Regions from separate parts of the Homo sapiens genome. Here region 1 is linked to region 2. A link means that fine-mapping ties the variant in region 2 to the expression of a gene that starts in the linked region. Tissue or cell type: whole blood. Region 2 holds a variant in brackets; the other region holds the start of a gene. All regions are shown on one strand. Distances are between the middles of the regions.

Evidence for each region. PIP is the estimated chance that this variant, and not a neighbour inherited with it, causes the effect.
Region 1: it holds the start of SLC67A1, and the variant in region 2 is fine-mapped to the expression of SLC67A1 in whole blood (INTERVAL, PIP 0.98).

What each region holds. Positions count from the first base shown.
Region 1 is chr11:2,898,414-2,906,413 of GRCh38, reverse strand. It overlaps SLC67A1 (solute carrier family 67 member 1), which reads right to left and starts at 4,136. Exons shown (of 11, transcript NM_002555.6): 1 at 4,050-4,136; 2 at 2,925-3,200. The coding sequence starts at 3,068. It overlaps SLC67A1-AS (SLC67A1 antisense RNA), which reads left to right and starts at 2,839. Exons shown (of 3, transcript NR_169305.1): 1 at 2,839-2,955; 2 at 3,705-3,830. RefSeq lists an enhancer at 2,448-2,949 and a silencer at 3,875-4,004.
Region 2 is chr11:2,826,734-2,834,733 of GRCh38, reverse strand. The region is part of intron 15 of KCNQ1 (potassium voltage-gated channel subfamily Q member 1); the gene reads right to left. Among named protein-coding and RNA genes, the nearest start is that of KCNQ1-AS1, 31 kb to the left of the region's middle. RefSeq lists an enhancer at 6,269-7,169. The variant G/C (reference allele first, on the strand shown) is at 3,217.

The sequences.
Region 1 (8,000 bases), 72 kb before region 2:
ATGTGTCTTTATAGTAGCATGATTTATAATCCTTTGGGTATATACCCAGTAATGGGATCGCTGGGTCAAATGGTATTTCTAGTTCTAGATCCTTGAAGAATCGCCACATGTCTTCCACAATGGTTGAACTAGTTTACAGTCCCACCAACAGTGTAAAAGTGTTCCTATTTCTCCACGTCCTCTCCAGCATCTGTTGTTTCCTGACTTTTTCATGATCGCCATTCTAACTGGTGTGAGATGGTATCTCATTGTGGTTTTGACTTGCATTTCTCTGATGACCAGTGATGATGAGCATTTTCTCATGTGTCTGTTGGCTGCATAAAGGTCTTCTTTTGAGAAGTGTCTGTTCATAGAGGATGCTGAGTTTCTCATCCCCAAGCCTGCCCACCTGTCCTCGCCTACCCAAGTCATCCTCCCTGCCTGCGTCACATCCCAACCTTTTGCCTCCTCAAGGGCAGGGCTCCCAATGTTCCTCTCTCCGTTTCTCTGCACAGTCCCCTTCTGTGGGGGCACCCACTGGACCAAGCTCCCAGTGCTCCTCTCTCCCCGTTTCTCTGCACAATCCCCTTTTGAGGGGGTGGCAATGGAGCATGCTCACATCCTGTTACTTCTCTTGCGTTCTCTTGACCCTCCCCTACAGCTACTCCCACATATTTGAGGGCGGAGCTCTGAGCAGCTGCCTCACCTTGCAGCCTCCTCTCTTTCCATCTCTTTCCTTCTCTCCCAGCCCTCGGAGCAGGCCCCAGGGGACTATACTATAAAGACACATGCACACGTATTTTTATCGCGGCACTGTTTACAATAGCAAAGACTTGGAACCAACCCAAATGTCCATCAATGACAGACTGGATTAAGAAAATGTGGCACATATAAACCATGGAATACTATGCAGCCATAAAAAAGGATGAGTTCATGTGCTTTGTACATGGATGAAGCTGGAAACCTTCATTCTGAGCAAACTATTGCAAGGACAAAAAACCTCCTGCTGTCTCCCCTCTCCCTGAGGTCCCCATTGACCCCACACTGCTGCCTCCAGTGGTCCGCTTTGGCAGGCCTCCCACTGGAGTGACAGTTGCCTTCGTGGCTTCTTCCCTCCTCCACGATGGTCTGCTGCTCTGGGCTGTGCTGGGTCCTTTGCCCCTCCTCCATCACCACTGCCAGTTCCCCCAGCTCATCCGACCTCCAGCCTCCCTGCCCTCTGGGGGAGCCCAGCCCATGACCGTCTCCATGCTGCAGGGCCCCAGAGCCTCTGTGCTGAACTGCCTTGTGTCCAGCTCCCTTCGGCTCTCCACTGGGGTCGAAAATCGTCTCAAACTCAACCCGTCCCCAACTGGGCTCCCATCTTTCCCTCTCCTCCTGTCCATGCCTCCTTCCTTATGGGCTCAGGCCCAGATCTTCAGTGCTCCCTGAGCCCTGCTTTCTCTCACACCCACTACAGTCCATTGACAACACATGCAAAATCCAGCCACCTCTCACCTCCTCCACAGCCATCACCAGCCCGGAGTTCTTTGAGCAGCAGGTGGGGTGTGGTCCCATTCTGGCCTCAACCGGTCCACTCTAGCCACTCTGCTCTCTCCACTGCCCCGGGGCCTCTCCTGCTTCCTTCCAGCCCTGCTCCAAGGTTGCCTTCTCTATGAGGAAGACCTCGCCCCCTTCCCACTGCAGCCCCTGTGCGTGTGGACCCCCAGCTCCGAGGGAGTGGGCTGTTGAGGATTTTTACACTCTGCAATATTTCAGGTTCTGACATCAGGGTCAGCTCCTGGGCACTCAGCACGGAGTTACTCCCCATGAGAGTCGATGGGTGGCTGAAGCCACTCCACCTGTGCTCTGTGCCCAGCTGTGGGAAGGGTTCTGACTTCTCATTCACTCTTCCCCGCACCAATCCTACAGGGAGGGACTGTTATTACCCATTTTATGATGAGAAAAGCAAGGCTCCTGCCCAGCCTTCCCCACGGGTAGGGAGGAGATTCAGGGCTTGGCCCCAGCCATTTAGCAGGAGTGGGCGGGGCGCCTGAGGCACGGCGGGGAGGGATCCTTAGGCTCACCCTCGGGCTGGGAGCCTCTGCCAGGCCCGGAATGGTGCCAAAGGCCCATCCCCACTCCCGCCTAGATGCCCAGGTCCAGGCTCTGAGGGCTGAGAGGAGGAGGGCAGCTGTCTGAGCCCACGCACGCCGGGCTTCCCAGAAGCAAACACAGGAAGGGCCGAGGTTGGCCCTGACTCTGCCTGAGCTTCTTGGTGATGTGAGACTTTGTTCCCAAGCCTCTCCAGACTTGGTGAATATAATTTAATCATTACTATTACAGCTTCCAGAGCCACACACTGTGGTATAGACTACTGAATGATACACTAAACTAACATGAATTTGCCAATGAAATGTTTCCGCATTTGGCAACAGAGATAATAAAATAAGACAGCATTCTATCTCTTGCAAGAAAAAGCTTGAGATCAATTTGCCGCCACAGATCATTTAGTGGACAACAAGGACCCAAGAAGATGGAGGGGAGAGATAGAAGCTGCGGGCAGGTGCAAGGAGAGCCTCTCTGAGGGGTGATCCGCCCAGAGCCACACCGGATTGAACAGCCCTTGGGGCAGGGACTCCAGAGGGCAAAGGCTGCCGGGTGAGAGGCAGGAGGAACAGCGCTAGGAAGGTTTGAGGAGGTGCTGCCCCCAGGAGGGAAGTGGGGTGGCTCCCCATGGCTTCTCCCGGGGCTGGCACTGAAGCTGGAGCACAGGATGTGCTGACGGGGGTCCAGAGGCAGAGTCCTTAACTTACTCAGCTTAAGCGTGGCATGAGTCCCAACTGGGAGGGGCCCTGGCAGCATGAAACCCCCACCCCCACTCTCTGCGACGGCCCAGATGGAGGGCAGGAGGAACAGCGGTTCAGCCCTGGCTGGGGCTGCAGGGGCTGGGGTGTGTTACTCACTGGCACGATGGAGAACTGCATGAAGAGGCAGGTAAGTTCTGTGGCGGCCAGCACGTAGGTAAGCAAGATGACCGAGGACCGGCCTAGAGCGCTCATCCTGCCGGGGGACCGGCCCTGGTCCCTGGGAGCCCGAGCTCCCTGCATCCTGGACAGGCGCAGCAGGGAGACCCAGGAGAGATCCAAGCAGGAGGCTGGCGGAGCAGGGGGCAAAAGTCCAGTTGATCCGGGCAGGGGTGCTGAGTCACTGGGTCCCAGGCAGCACCCGCCTGGCCTTGCCTGCAAGAGAGGACAGCACTGCAGGACCCCCTCCCCAGTGGAGCTCTCCTGCTACCTGGACCTTAGAGGACACATCAGGGGGTCCCCCTCCTCCACTTTTGACAGCTCTGGTCTCCAGGCACACAGCCTCCCGGGGAGGGGAGACAGGGACAAGCTGCTCCCCCCGACCCCTGCAGGTGGGCCAGGCTCAGTGCCTGGTTGCCTGACACAGGAATGTGCCATGCCCCACTTTTAGAGGGAGGCAGAGGCTCGGAGTGGTGGCTGAGTCCACCTCAAATCATCAGCGCCTTCTGTGGCCAGAGGGCTGATGTGGGTCCCTGTGCCTGGAGGCCCTCCGTAGGCCCACAGTGGCCCTGTCCCCAACACAGTGCAGCTCTCAGGGAAGGTCTACCTTCCCCTGTGGCCAGCAGCCAGAGCTCCAAGGGGCTTCTGGAATGGTCTTGCGTAGGGGAGACATAGCTCAGCCTTCCAGGCTCCCCAGTAGCTCTGCCTTACCTCCCACAGCGGAGTGCTGTCTGTCCCCACCCTTCCCCGCCCGGCCTCCAACTGGTGGGAACTGGATTTTGCGGCTGCAGAGGACTTCCCCAAATTTTGCCACATTAACAGCTGACTGCACATCTGAGCCCCGAGGTACCGAACCCAGGCTGGTGGGGTAGGGCGGGGAGACCCCTGAGGGTCCGGGAGCTGCGCCTGGCGCCCTCCCCCATCCCGGGATGCAGGGAGGCTGGGGGGAGCAGGGCAGCCGCAGCAGGCACGTCAGGGGCACCTCATTGGGCAGAGGTGCGACGCTGCGCCGGAGTTCGGGGTTCGGGGCTCAGAGGCCGCCCTCTCCGGAGTGTGCTCGAGTACCTGCCTTTGCAGGGGCGGGCTTGGGCACGGGTGCCGGTGGGGTGAGCGCTCCAGGGTGACCTAGACACCGGTCCTTCCGGGATGAGCCCCGGCCCCGCCCTTTCGGGAGATGACTTGCAACAGGGACCGCCCCTCTGGGTCTGAGTTCCAGCCCTCGCGCTTTGCAATCGCCAGTTCCGGGAGCGCCCGTGCCACGGTTTCTGCGCTCTCACTGGCCGAGCCCGCCCCTCCCCTCGAAGGACCCGCCCCTGCCCCGCCCACCAGCGGGCTCGCCCCGTGCCCGGCTTCGCCCGCCCCAGCCCCCTCCAGCTTGAATCCTGCCCGGTGCCCGGGCTGCTGGAGGTGGACACTCTGACCCTCAGGCAGCACCGGTGTCCACTTTGGGCCTGAGGAGGGGCAGTGTGGGCAGGGGATGGGACCGGGAGGTGGAGGGAAGGAGAGAATGGAGGGGAGGCAGGGGCGGGGAGAGAAAAGCGGAGGAATGGTGGTGAGGGGTTAGGGGAAGAAGTCAGGGGAGGTTGTAGAGGGTGTGGTGTAGCCTGGCCCTGCCAAAGGTCTGCACAGAGCCCCAGAAGAGTGACCAGGAGACAGCTCTGGGCCCCTCCTCACTTCCCTCCCCAGACCCGGAGGCTGCTAGGAGCAGTTGAGAGCCCACTTTTCCCCATTTCACCCTGCCTGCCACTTCCCCACCCTTGCAGGGGCCACCAGAGATGCCAGCACACAGGTAAACAAGCCTCATGCCGCCCTCCGCAGCAGGAGCCGCTGGAGCACACACACCCCACGCTGCGCACACTTGGCCCAAGCCCTGCCCTTGGCCTGGGCACCATTCTCCGTGCCCCTGACTGTCACTAAGTAGGGAGATGCTCATTCAGGACTCCTGCCCCACCTCCTCCCCAGGCAAGGGCTGGGCACAGGCTCAAATGTCAAAACCAGTGTCCCCCTGCCATGTGTCAATCATCGCTCCACAGAGCAGAAAACTGCAGGGGTGAGACAGGGTGGGACGGACATCGCAGAGGCGAGCGAGAGCCGGCCAAAGTCCTGGTGGGCAGGGGGGCCAGAGCCAGGTGGCCCAAGGCCGGCTGGCTAAGCCATTCCAAGTCACCGTGGGAGTGGTTCAGCAGCTACCCTTCGTTCAGCAGCTCAGATATGTTGGGCATCAGAAAACAATACCCCAAAATGAAGGCCTCAGAAGCAGCTTCGGAAGAAAAAGTGTTTCTCTGACCTTCTCTTGCTCTCCTGTCTCTCAGTGCCATTTTCCCCGAAGCTGGCCTTAGAAACTGGAATCCATTTTCCCCAGGGCAGGTCATAGAAATCAGAACCCCGCCTTTCCACACAGCCAGACATCAAACCTAAAAATATTGCTCTAACTTTCCCTCCACCTTTGTGTTTAGAAGCTGGCCATAAATTATCTGACCTCTCTTGTTTGACTGTAGGGCATAAGACCCCATTCCAGGAGGGTCCTGCTCCATGCCCAGAAGGAAGGAATGCTGCTCAGAAAGTTCAAGAAATCTAGACCAACAGCCCTCGCTGCGCTTCCCCTTGCGGTCCAGGAGCATTAGTGCAGGTCCCTTGGTTCATCTGTGTTCCCGCATGGATGTCCATACTTTGTTGAGCCTAAGCATCAGAAATGGCAATTTCCCCCATATCTTTTTTTTTTTTTTTTTTTTTTTTTGAGACGGAGTCTTGCTCTGTCACCCAGGCTGAAGTGCAGTGGCGCGATCTCGGCTCGCTGCAAGCTCCGCCTCCCGGGTTCACGCCATTCTCCTGCCTCAGCCTCCCGAGTAGCTGGGACTACAGGCGCCCGCCACAGCCCCCGCTAATTTTTTTGTATTTTTAGTAGAGACGGAGTTTCACCGTGTTAGCCAGGATGGTCTCGATCTCCTGACCTCGTGATCCGCCCCCCCTCGGCCTCCCAAAGTGCTGGGATTACAGGCGTGAGCCACCGCGCCCAGCCTGTTTCCCCCATATCTTTGGGTCTTTGTTCTGAAAACTCCCATTCACACACGTCAATCAATTTGGGGACCAAATGCCTTTTGTCCAATCAATCTGCCCTCTGTGAGGTGGTTTCTTAGCAAGCCCACGGGTGCAGTGTACCGCTCGAGGGGATTCCAGCCCAAAGAGTGCAAACGTGTTTGCATCTGGAGTGCGTGTCCCCAGATCCTCTGCCAAGCTCGTTTTCAAGAATAGTCACCACTGGCCGCCCTGGGGACTTGGGGAGAGTGCAGTCAAGCCGAGAGCCCAGGTCCAGCCAGAGTTTCCTGGAAGGACTGCACAGAAAGGCCGGCTGTGTAAGGTGGGGGTGGGTGACAGGAGTCTCAGAGTGTCTTAGATTTGGGACTCCTGGGGGAGGATGGGCATCCACATGAACCCTTACTCAATGGGGCAGGTGTGAGGGACTGTCCCCAACAGGTTCCAGACGCCTCCTGGGTTCCCTGGGGAGGGCTTAGAGGATGAAGCGGCAGGAGGAGATGGGATGAGTTACCAAACTGCCCAGAGGTGTGCGAGGGAGGCTGAGGGTCCTCTGGCGCTGAGGTGTGGTGGAGATGCTGGAAACTTACCACTGTCTTCCTCCAGGTGAAGCAGGGCCTCAGGTAGCCAGGGAACTGGTTGAGCAGAGGAAATCGGAGAGACCTTTTTTTTTGTCATGAACAGGCTCAGTGTGAATGGGGGAACTTCCTGGTTCTGAGGGAATGTGGGAAAATTGCCCTTTAGGCTGGGTGAAGAAGAAAGCAAGTGGAACCCTGGCACCCCTGGACTTCCTCCTCCAGAGGAAGCGGCTTTGGTTGTGGGCCAGCGAGCCTGTGCGTCCCCAGCCCCAGGGCATTCACCGCTTCAGAGAAGCAAGGCGACAGTTCTGCCGGATGAGAGGATCCAGGCTGACTGGAGGAAGGAAGGGCTTTGGCTCATCTGGGCTCAGGTTTGGGAGAGGTGGCTTCTCAGAGGAGGTGATGCCTCAGCCAGTCTTAAAGGTGAGCACGGATTGTTTGGGTATGGGAAGGGCATCCTGGCTGAGAGAATAGCATAGATAACGGCTTAGAGGTGAGCCCAGGCTTGGAGTGTTCAGGAAGCTGAGCCACTGGAAGGGGCTGGGACCAAGGGTGTACAGTGGGGTGACGGGGCAGAAAGTGAGTCTAGAGAGAGGGGTGACCCTGGGAGCGCTGGGCAGGGACACAGCCAGACGTGCACTGAGAAGTATTGCTCTGAACACTGCATCCTGGAGGCTGGGACCTCTGAGGGGTCTCCCGAATGAGAGGAGGCCAGCTTCAGAGCTGACCCCTGCCTACACCACTGCCTGGACATTTGAAATGGCTTTGGGCCTATCTTAACCCGACACACATTTATTAAGCACCTACTGTGTGCATGCCCCATGCCAGCTGTTTGGGACGTCAGCTGGCAAAGCTGACCGCCTGGTGGTAGCTTGCATCATTAGAGTGCATGTGCAGGCTTCGGGGAGGCACATGATCCCGGGTCACCACAATGCCTAAGGAAATGACTCACTGCCTATGAGCACTTGAGTTCTTCCTGTGTGTGCAGTGGACGCCGCTGCAGGGTTCTGAGCCCCTTCTGTTCTCCAAGGAGCCTCTGGCTGATGTGCTGATGAGGGGTTGAGGGGAGGGGCAGTGCAGGAGGTCTCTGCTGTGGTCCAGATGAGAGGTGGTGTGGACTTGGATGGGGCATGGGGGGATTTGAGGGGCAGGTTTGGAACCTCCCTGGAAGGAGGCCTGACAGGCTTCCTGCTGGTTGGGGCCTGGGCTGAGAGGGCCAACTGAGGGGGCCTTCAGGTGCGGCTGGGGGCGACATGAGGGGAGGCAACCCTGCAGGTCCATCCACGGGAGGGGCCTGTGGGCCAGCAGAGAGGGCAGAGTGTGCAGTGTGCAGTTTGCGGCATGTGGTCTGAGCTGGACGTGAGGGTGTCATTGACACTCATGTCCTGTTTAGAGCTCCCACCCT
Region 2 (8,000 bases):
GGGTGTCTCCCCAACTCTCAGACATAAGGACACCCTTCCAAGCTTGTTCCTTCACCTGGCGGGGCCCTGAGCCCCACACCCCTCCCCTGTCCTTTCTCCATCCGACATCAAGCGCCTCCCTGCCTCTGCTCGCACAGTCTCTGAGATGGGGAACTCAGCACCTCACAGGTGGGCCCAGCTCTGGTGCTGTCTGTGTTGGGGGAGCTGGGGCAGCCCCCAAAAGACCTTGGAGACAGACCCTCAGAGGCAGGAGCAGAGGCTGGCAGTGGATGCTGTGCCTGGAGGCCTTGAGGGCGAGGTGTGATGATGAGGCCCAGGCTGCAGGGCTCTTTCTGGCTCTCCAGCTCCGGAGAACAAGGGATTTCCTCCTGCTCTGCCCACCCTCCCCAGCCAGTGCATGCTCAGCCTCAGCACCGCACCTGGGCGCCCTCCATGATCTGCCCCACCTGGACACATGGCTCGAGGGGCACACTACCATGCCATACACCATGTCACGCACCTTGCCACTCCACATGCTACACAACCCAGCCCCAGCCCCAGCCATGCCATGTGCCACACCATGTGCCACACCACTCCCACCATGCCACCACCATGCCATGCACACAGCCACGCCAGGCACAGCAGGCGCTGAGCCCATCCTGCACGAATGCAGCAGTGTGTGTGTGTAAGGGGACCTAAGCCTCTGCCCATGTCCTCCCGGGAGCCAGCCCCTGGCTGCACTCCTTGTGGCTAAGTGGGGTTCTGCTGCCCCCCAGCCCCTGCTGACAGCCTGGGAAGGGGGTGAGGAGGTGGGGGAGCAGGCTGGGAGGGCAGGAAGTTGCTGGGGCTCCAGCCCCATCTGGACATATTTGGCAAGCCCCGCTCCCCGCCGCTCCTCAGCCTGTCGGAACGGCCCCTGGCGCTGGTGCTGGACACTCTGGCCTTCCCCCAGCTGCCTGTCCCACCTTCCCCACTGTTGTCTCGGTCCCGTCTCGGGGCACTTGCCCCAGTTCCTGCTGCTGGGCCCAGTGGACTGCACGGTCACAGCCAGGTGCAAACATGGGACCTGGTGTTTGCTCACCTCTCTGAACCTCCATTTTGCCTCTGCAAGACAGGGGCTGCAAATGGAGTGAAGCGGGGAAGCCTGCCCACCCCAGGAACCCAGCCTCTTGCCTCCCAGTGACACGGTTGCTGGCGGGGCAGCAGTGGGGATGCTCGGGGACCCCTGCCCTTGAGGCTGGCTCCCAGGTCCACGTGCCTGGGGCTGACTTGGGGCCTGACAGCTGCGCCCAGGTGCCCACCCTAAGGCTGAGACTCCCTCACATCTATGCAGTCTTCACAGAGGTCCCAAGGGGCTCTGGGATCCTATGAGGGGAGAAGCTTGGAGAGGGGTGGGGCATGTGGGCAGGTGGGGGGAGGACTCGGCTCCAGGGCACTGGCCCGGCTTGGCTGCCCTGACTCTGCCATTGTGTCCAGAAGTCCACAGGCCTCCCGTCCCTCAGGGAAGCAAGAAGGGGCTATGTCCTCTGCCCTGGCGCGTGGGCCCCTTGCGTGCAGGGGCTTCCACAGGGCCTCTAATTGCCTCGACTCCAGAGGCACACAGGCACCCCTACCCAGCATGTTCTCCCACACCCACAGCCTCCTAGCTGTGGGATAACCATGGACGATGCTGCCAACCTCTTATCCCCTGGTCTGGTGGGCAGTCCTTGGGCACCAGCCTGCCCTGAGCAGGGAACAGCAGCTGCATTGCCCACATCTGTCTCCCACTGGGAGGAGGCTAGTGTCCAGGTCACTCTGGGGGAGAGGGGAGGGACCAGGTCAAAGTGGGAGAGTGGAGTGAAGCCCCCTGAGCTGGGCATGGCTTCTGCCCCATGGAGCCCTGGCCAGGCCCTGTGGACCACGGCGGTGGCAGCCACCTTCCCCACACCCTACAGTTGTCACCTGGGGCAGCCCCAGCCAGACCATGGTCTCCTCCTGCCTTGGGGAGCATCAGCCCCAGCCTTGCCTTTCACCCCACAGCTGGGCCGCTCAGTGATGCCATCAGCAACCTTCTCCACACAGGCCCTACCGGGAGCTACAGAGGGAACATGCTCCGGGGAGGCGGGCAGACCTGAGGAGGGCTTCCTGCTGCAACTGTGGTCTCCCAGGCAGCAGGGTGCTTGGCGCTTTGCCTGCACTGGCTCTCCTGACCCTGCCAAGGCCCTGGGCATGGGCGGGGACTGCGTCCCATCTCCCTGATCTTGCAGTAGGGGAAGGTGAGTTGTGGAGTCGCAGAGCCCGTCTGAGCGAGCAGCTTGTGGGTATCCTGGTTCCTCTTGCTCCCCATGACCCTGTGCGGTCGGAGCTCTGACGGCCCCACTCCCAGGAGGGGACACAGGCACCCTGTCCTAGTCTCCCAGCCCGGAAGCCCCCACCCTGCCAGGTCCCGCACAGGCATCTGAGCCTTCAAGTCCCTCATCTAGTTCAGCCCTCTGGTACCTCCATTTGCAGGGCCAGGTCCAAGGCTTCTCTAACGCTGCCCATCTGCCAAGATGCCGGGCAACCCCCACTGTGCCTGAGGGGCCAGGCCTTCCCTCAGGGGTGCTGGGAAAGGGTAGGGTGGGGACCGGGCTGGTGTGTGTCCTGGGGACAATGAAGCTATCACCTGTCAGGAAGGCTGGGGGTAGTCTAGGCAGTTGTCCCAGGTCCTAAGCCTGAGGCCCAGCTGTCCACCTGCAGGGCTGCCTGGAGGTGGAGGTCTGCCTGGGCCTCAGGCCACCCCCCTGGAGCAGAGGCTCCTGGTACACGGGCAGGGCCTCCTTTCCAGCTTCCTACCAGGGGCATGTCCAGCTCAGGCCACTGCAAGACCATGTGCCAGGGGCTGAGTCAGGCATATCCCATGGACCCTGGACAGGTGAGACTCTTGAGGCTCAGAGAAGTGAAATCACTGGGGGTCATGGAGTGGCCACTTCCTCGCTGTACCTAGCCTTCCAGGGCTCTGGTGGGGGAGGGAGGAGGGGGCAACGGAGAGAGGCAGAGGAGGGCAGCGGGGAGGGGAGGGGAGGGCAGCGGGGAGAAGGGTGCTGGAGGAAGGAGGGGAGCAGTGGTGGGGAAGGGGAAAGGGGAGGAGGGGCAATGTGGAAGGAAGCGGGGGAGAGAGGAGCGGAGGGGACACTATGGTTGTGGCCATCCAGGACATCAAGAGGAAACTGACTGAAGTCTAGAGAAGGATCAGGAATAGATCTGGGCCTAAGGGTG[G/C]TGGTTCAGGGCACAGAGTACCAGAGGGACCCAGAGACCTGGAGAGCTTCTTGTGTCTCCACAGTCAGGGAGGGCTTCCTGGAGGCAGAAGCACCTTCGACAGCCCCACAGTGTTCCAGGCCTACAAGGCATTCACCCCTTCTCTCCCCTGTTCATGGGTTATTTCCAGCCGCCACTGGTCCAAGCACCCCCTGATGGTGTAGGGCAGGCCGGGCCACATACTTCTTCTCATGGCCCAACTGTGGGCACAGGCACCCATCACGTCTGCTGAGGTGCCTCCTCAGGGACATCCTGCCCTGCACCCGATGGCCATCCCTGTAGCAGCTGCTGCTGATCACAGAGCACCTGTCATTCTGAGAACATCCCATTGATCGCCGCCTTTGGCTTCACAGCCATACTGGGAAGCAGGCAGGGCTGCCCTCTGCATGCCAGAGGCCAGAAAATGGGGCGCAGAGAGCATGGGCAGCTTCCCTCAGGGGGCCCATTGGGCGGGTGCTGGGGTGGGGCTGAGCACCCAGACCAGCTGCCTCTCATCATCACCACTTCCCTGTCCTGCCTTGACAAGACCTGCACGGGGTCTCCCAAGGGTACCCTTGCGGTTTCAAAGACTCCCTGGTCAGCTCCTAACCCTGCATTTTCCTGACAGGAAAGCTGAGGCCTAGAGAGGGGTTGGGCCAGCCTGTGCTGGGTTACCTGATGATGGGGAGAGGGGAAGGCCCAGGTGTGTGGCTCTGTGGCCAGGGTGCTGGAGGGCACACACGTGGGGTGCCCTTGGGAGGTCAGAGGTCTGAGGGCCACGGAGATGTGGGGGTTCCTGGGAAGGCCCACAATGCTCGGAAGGTGAGTGGAAGGGTGGGAAGGTCTCCACCCAGGAAGGAGGTCCTGGGCTGGCCCCCAGCCTGCCTGGCCCAGGCTGACCCTGTGAGTTGATGAGAGATTCAGGCCCCATCCTGCAGCTCCCAGCCCGCCCTTCCTGCTCCCGGGGCTGGAGGAAGAGGTTCTTGGGACACTGGGACTGGGGTGTGGGGATACATGCTGACTAGACTGGGTGTGGTTTGCAGGCCATTGGGAGGACCTAGGTCCTTTAACAGGGGACTTAACAGGGACTTAGATCCCGGGGCCTTGGAGATCATCTAAGATATCATTCAGGTCATAGCTCTGGGATGCCTGCCCAGGGAAGAGCCCAGATCCCTCTGTCAACCCTTGCTAAAGGTGGGGAGGAGGCACCCACCAGTGAGTCCTCTTCTCTCACTGGCCTTATCCTGCACAGCCCCAGCCCCAGCTAGTCAGAGGGCTCCTGCGTAGCACCCAGCCAGTCCTGAGCCTGTGCCCACGGTGTAAAGGGCCTGCTGGTCTTTCCCCTTCACCACACACCTGCTGTTCCCAGCCAGGGTGGCATGCACCCACCTTCCCCTCTCAGAGCTCCTTGGCCAATCTCTTCCTTCTCTCTCTTCCTCCCTCCTCCCTCCTCCTTCCTCCTCCCTCCTCCTTCCTCCTCCTTCCTCCTCCTTCCTCCTCCCTCTTCCTTCCTCCTCCCTCCTCCTTCCTTCTCATCCTCCTCCCCCTCCCCCTCCCCCTCCCCACCAGGGTATTGGCAGAATTCCCTATTCTCTGGCACCATCACTTCCTTCTTAAATTTTCTTACCCTTAGTGAGAAAACCCGTGAAGCTCTCCCATCTTTAAACAGCCTTCCCTGGGCGCTAGATCTTCTATCTCTAATTTCTGTTCCCAGAGGCAGCCCTTCAACCCTACCGACTATCTCTTGGCTTTACCTTGGCATTTCCAAACTACACATTTACATTGCTGTTCCTTGAAATTTTGTCACTTTAGACATTATCTAGTGACTGCCTAACATGGAAGAGAAGTGATCAAGATTTTGTTCTCATGCCCCTGCCCTCCCCACTCCCTTATCTTTCCAACACAGTTAAATTAGAATTCTAGGCTAAATAAGTACTTACTGTTTGCATTTTACACAAACAGTATATAACTCTTTATGTCACTATGTAATCACTGTTTTTAGCTGTGTCCTGTGGTCTGTTATGATTACATCTTCTTGTTTTCCCTTGGGTTACAAATGGCCTTAGGTTTTGCTTGTTTTTTACTGCATCTGTCACTAATTCATTCTTGAACTTTCTGTAAGAATTGTAAAACTTCTTTCATCCTATTGAGAATACTGGCAGTCTATCACCTTCATTTTTTTTTTCTTCTGGGATTTCTTCCTGGAGTCTTAGCAGGACTGTTTGCACTGTAGGCATGCTGAGCAGCTGTAATGCTAGAACTTCTTTCACTCATGTTGAAAATTCTCTTGGCCTTTTGTTTTTGGTGTTGGAGTCTCCCTGGTTCTTGAATTGTGTTTCTCTTTCTTTGTTTTTTCCTCTCATTTTGCTAGAGCACGTCCTCAAGTAACTTTCTGAGAAAAGGCATGTGGTAGATACAATTTTTGACTGTGCATGTTTGGAAATGTCTTTATTCTATTCTCATACCTGAGAGTTTGACTAGGTATAGAATTCTGGATGGGAAATCATTTTTTCCCTCAGATGTTTGAAGGCATTTCTCTACTATGTGCTAGCTTTCTGAATTGCTGTTAAGAAATTGGATACCGTTTTGATTTTCTATTCTCTTGTGTGTGACTTACTTTTTCTCTCTGGAAATGTGGAGTGTCTGCTTTATTGCTGGTGTTCTGAAAACAATGGTGTGCCCCACCGGGCATTCTGGGAGTTGATGAGGGAAGTGGGGGAGGAGGTCTTCCTTTTTAGCTTGAATGCATTTACTGAATCCCTGTTGTTTTCATCACGAGAGCTCCTGCCCCACCCACAACTGCTCCTGGTGGCTCCAAGTTCAGAACCTCTCAGGCTCAGCTTTTCTGGAGACTCAACCTGTCTCTAGCTGAGCTTGAGAATCAGTAGCATCTGGCTTCATGGGCTGGGGTGAGACCTGCCTGTCAGGGTCCTGGGTTGGGAACTGCCTCATTCTTGGTGGCTCTTCTTCCTGCAGGGCTTGGTGTCTACCCTCTCCAGTCTCCTAGGCCAGTCTCCATCTGTCCTCCTGCTTCCCAGCTTCCAAACCTTTGTCAACATATTTTTGGTCTCCTCTTTTCTCCTGACCACTTTACCCTAGTTGATTTACATGTTTCCATGTTTTTCATGCCTTTACTGTCACCTTAGTGGGATTCAAAGAAGCTGAAATAGACATGTGTTTACCCATCACGTTTAACCAGTGCTTTCAGCTCTGGCACCTGCTGCTCCGGTCACCAAACCTTCCAGCAGCCCCCTGACGACACCATCTCCTGTCCTGACTTCTCAGAGTTTTCTTCTTGGGTGCTAGTCCCTGCCTGCTGAGGTCCTCCAGCTCCCAGGAGCCATGTTCCCATGGGTGCCTTTCTGCACGTGGCTGCCTCCTCTGAGTCCCGGCTGTGGCCCCTTCCCTGCTGGCTCCTGTGTGGTGCTGCCAGCCTTTGTCCTGCCCTCGCCCCTTTGCAGGTAGTGTTCCCTCTGTTGCTGGCCTCCCCACATTCGAGCTTTCAAGACCTCTATGTGCCCGGTGGTGCCTGGCTTGGACTCAGGGCCAACACCACCATAGGGTTCCCGGCCCCTGACCTCACCACTTCCATGTCTCAGAGGCATCTTGAATTCGACACACCCCAAACAAAGCTCTCGCTGCCTTCTGCCCGCCCCTTCCTCTTCATTCCGGAAAACAGTACCACCACATACCTGCTACTTACACCCTGGCCTGAGCCGCTGAAGTGTACCCCCATTTCCTCCCTCAAGCGCCCAACTCCTATCTGAGTCCTTCTGGTCTGGCCTCCAAGCCACATGTGGAATTTTCCCTCTGGCAAAACAGCCACTTGTCTCCATAGCCGCTCTCCCCCGCCCCCCCGACCCCACTTTTTTTTTTTAATCAACAGAACCCTGAATTAAGCTGAGTGTTTGCCTGCCTGGAATAGAGACTCCGTCCCCAGGGGCCCTTGCAGCGACTCAGGCGTGCGTCACATTCCGGCGGGTGGACAGAAAGGGGGATGACGTGGGCCGCTTCTGTGTAGGGTTTTACAGGAGTGGGGCCTGTCCTTCATGTCTTTTACCTCCCTCCTGCTGCTGGAATGCAGATGTGATGGTGAATGCAGGAGCAGCCGCTGGGGACCATAGGACAGAAGCACTGGATTGTGGACAGGAAAGCAAGCAGAGAGAGGAGGTCTGGGGCCAGGCTGATTCACCAGGCACACATCAGCCCTGAAGCTTCTGCTACTCTGGGACCCTGCGGGTGGCAAAGTTCTCTCTTATTTGGGCTGTCCCCAGGGTCACTGTCTCAGCAGCAGCTGAACCAAGAACCTCCCCTTCTCCCACCTGCCCTGACTCTGGTCCCTTATCTCCTACCTGGGGGACAGCAACACGAGGTGACTGTGCCTGGCCTCCTCTCTGCAGCCCAGCCTGTTCCCCTCCCGGCTCTGTGACATCTAAGCACATCACCTCTGAGCTTCAGGCTGAAGCCCTCCTGTGGCTTGTGAGTGACTGAAAATGACTCCAAACTCCTTAGAGGACTGCTCCGATGTCACCTCCTTGGAGATGTCCCCTTCCCCACCTACTCCACGGCTCATGGGCCACCTGCCTGGCTTTCTTCCTCCCTGTCCTTGTCACTCCAGGACCAGACACCCCACACCCAGTGGTTTACAGGCTGCTGGCCTGTGTGTCTCTCTGGCTGTGAGCATATGGGGAAGTGGTTAGTGTGTCTCCCCAGCACCCAGCATGGCTCCAAGCACATAGTGGGATTCTGAGTGGAGGCAGGGCAGG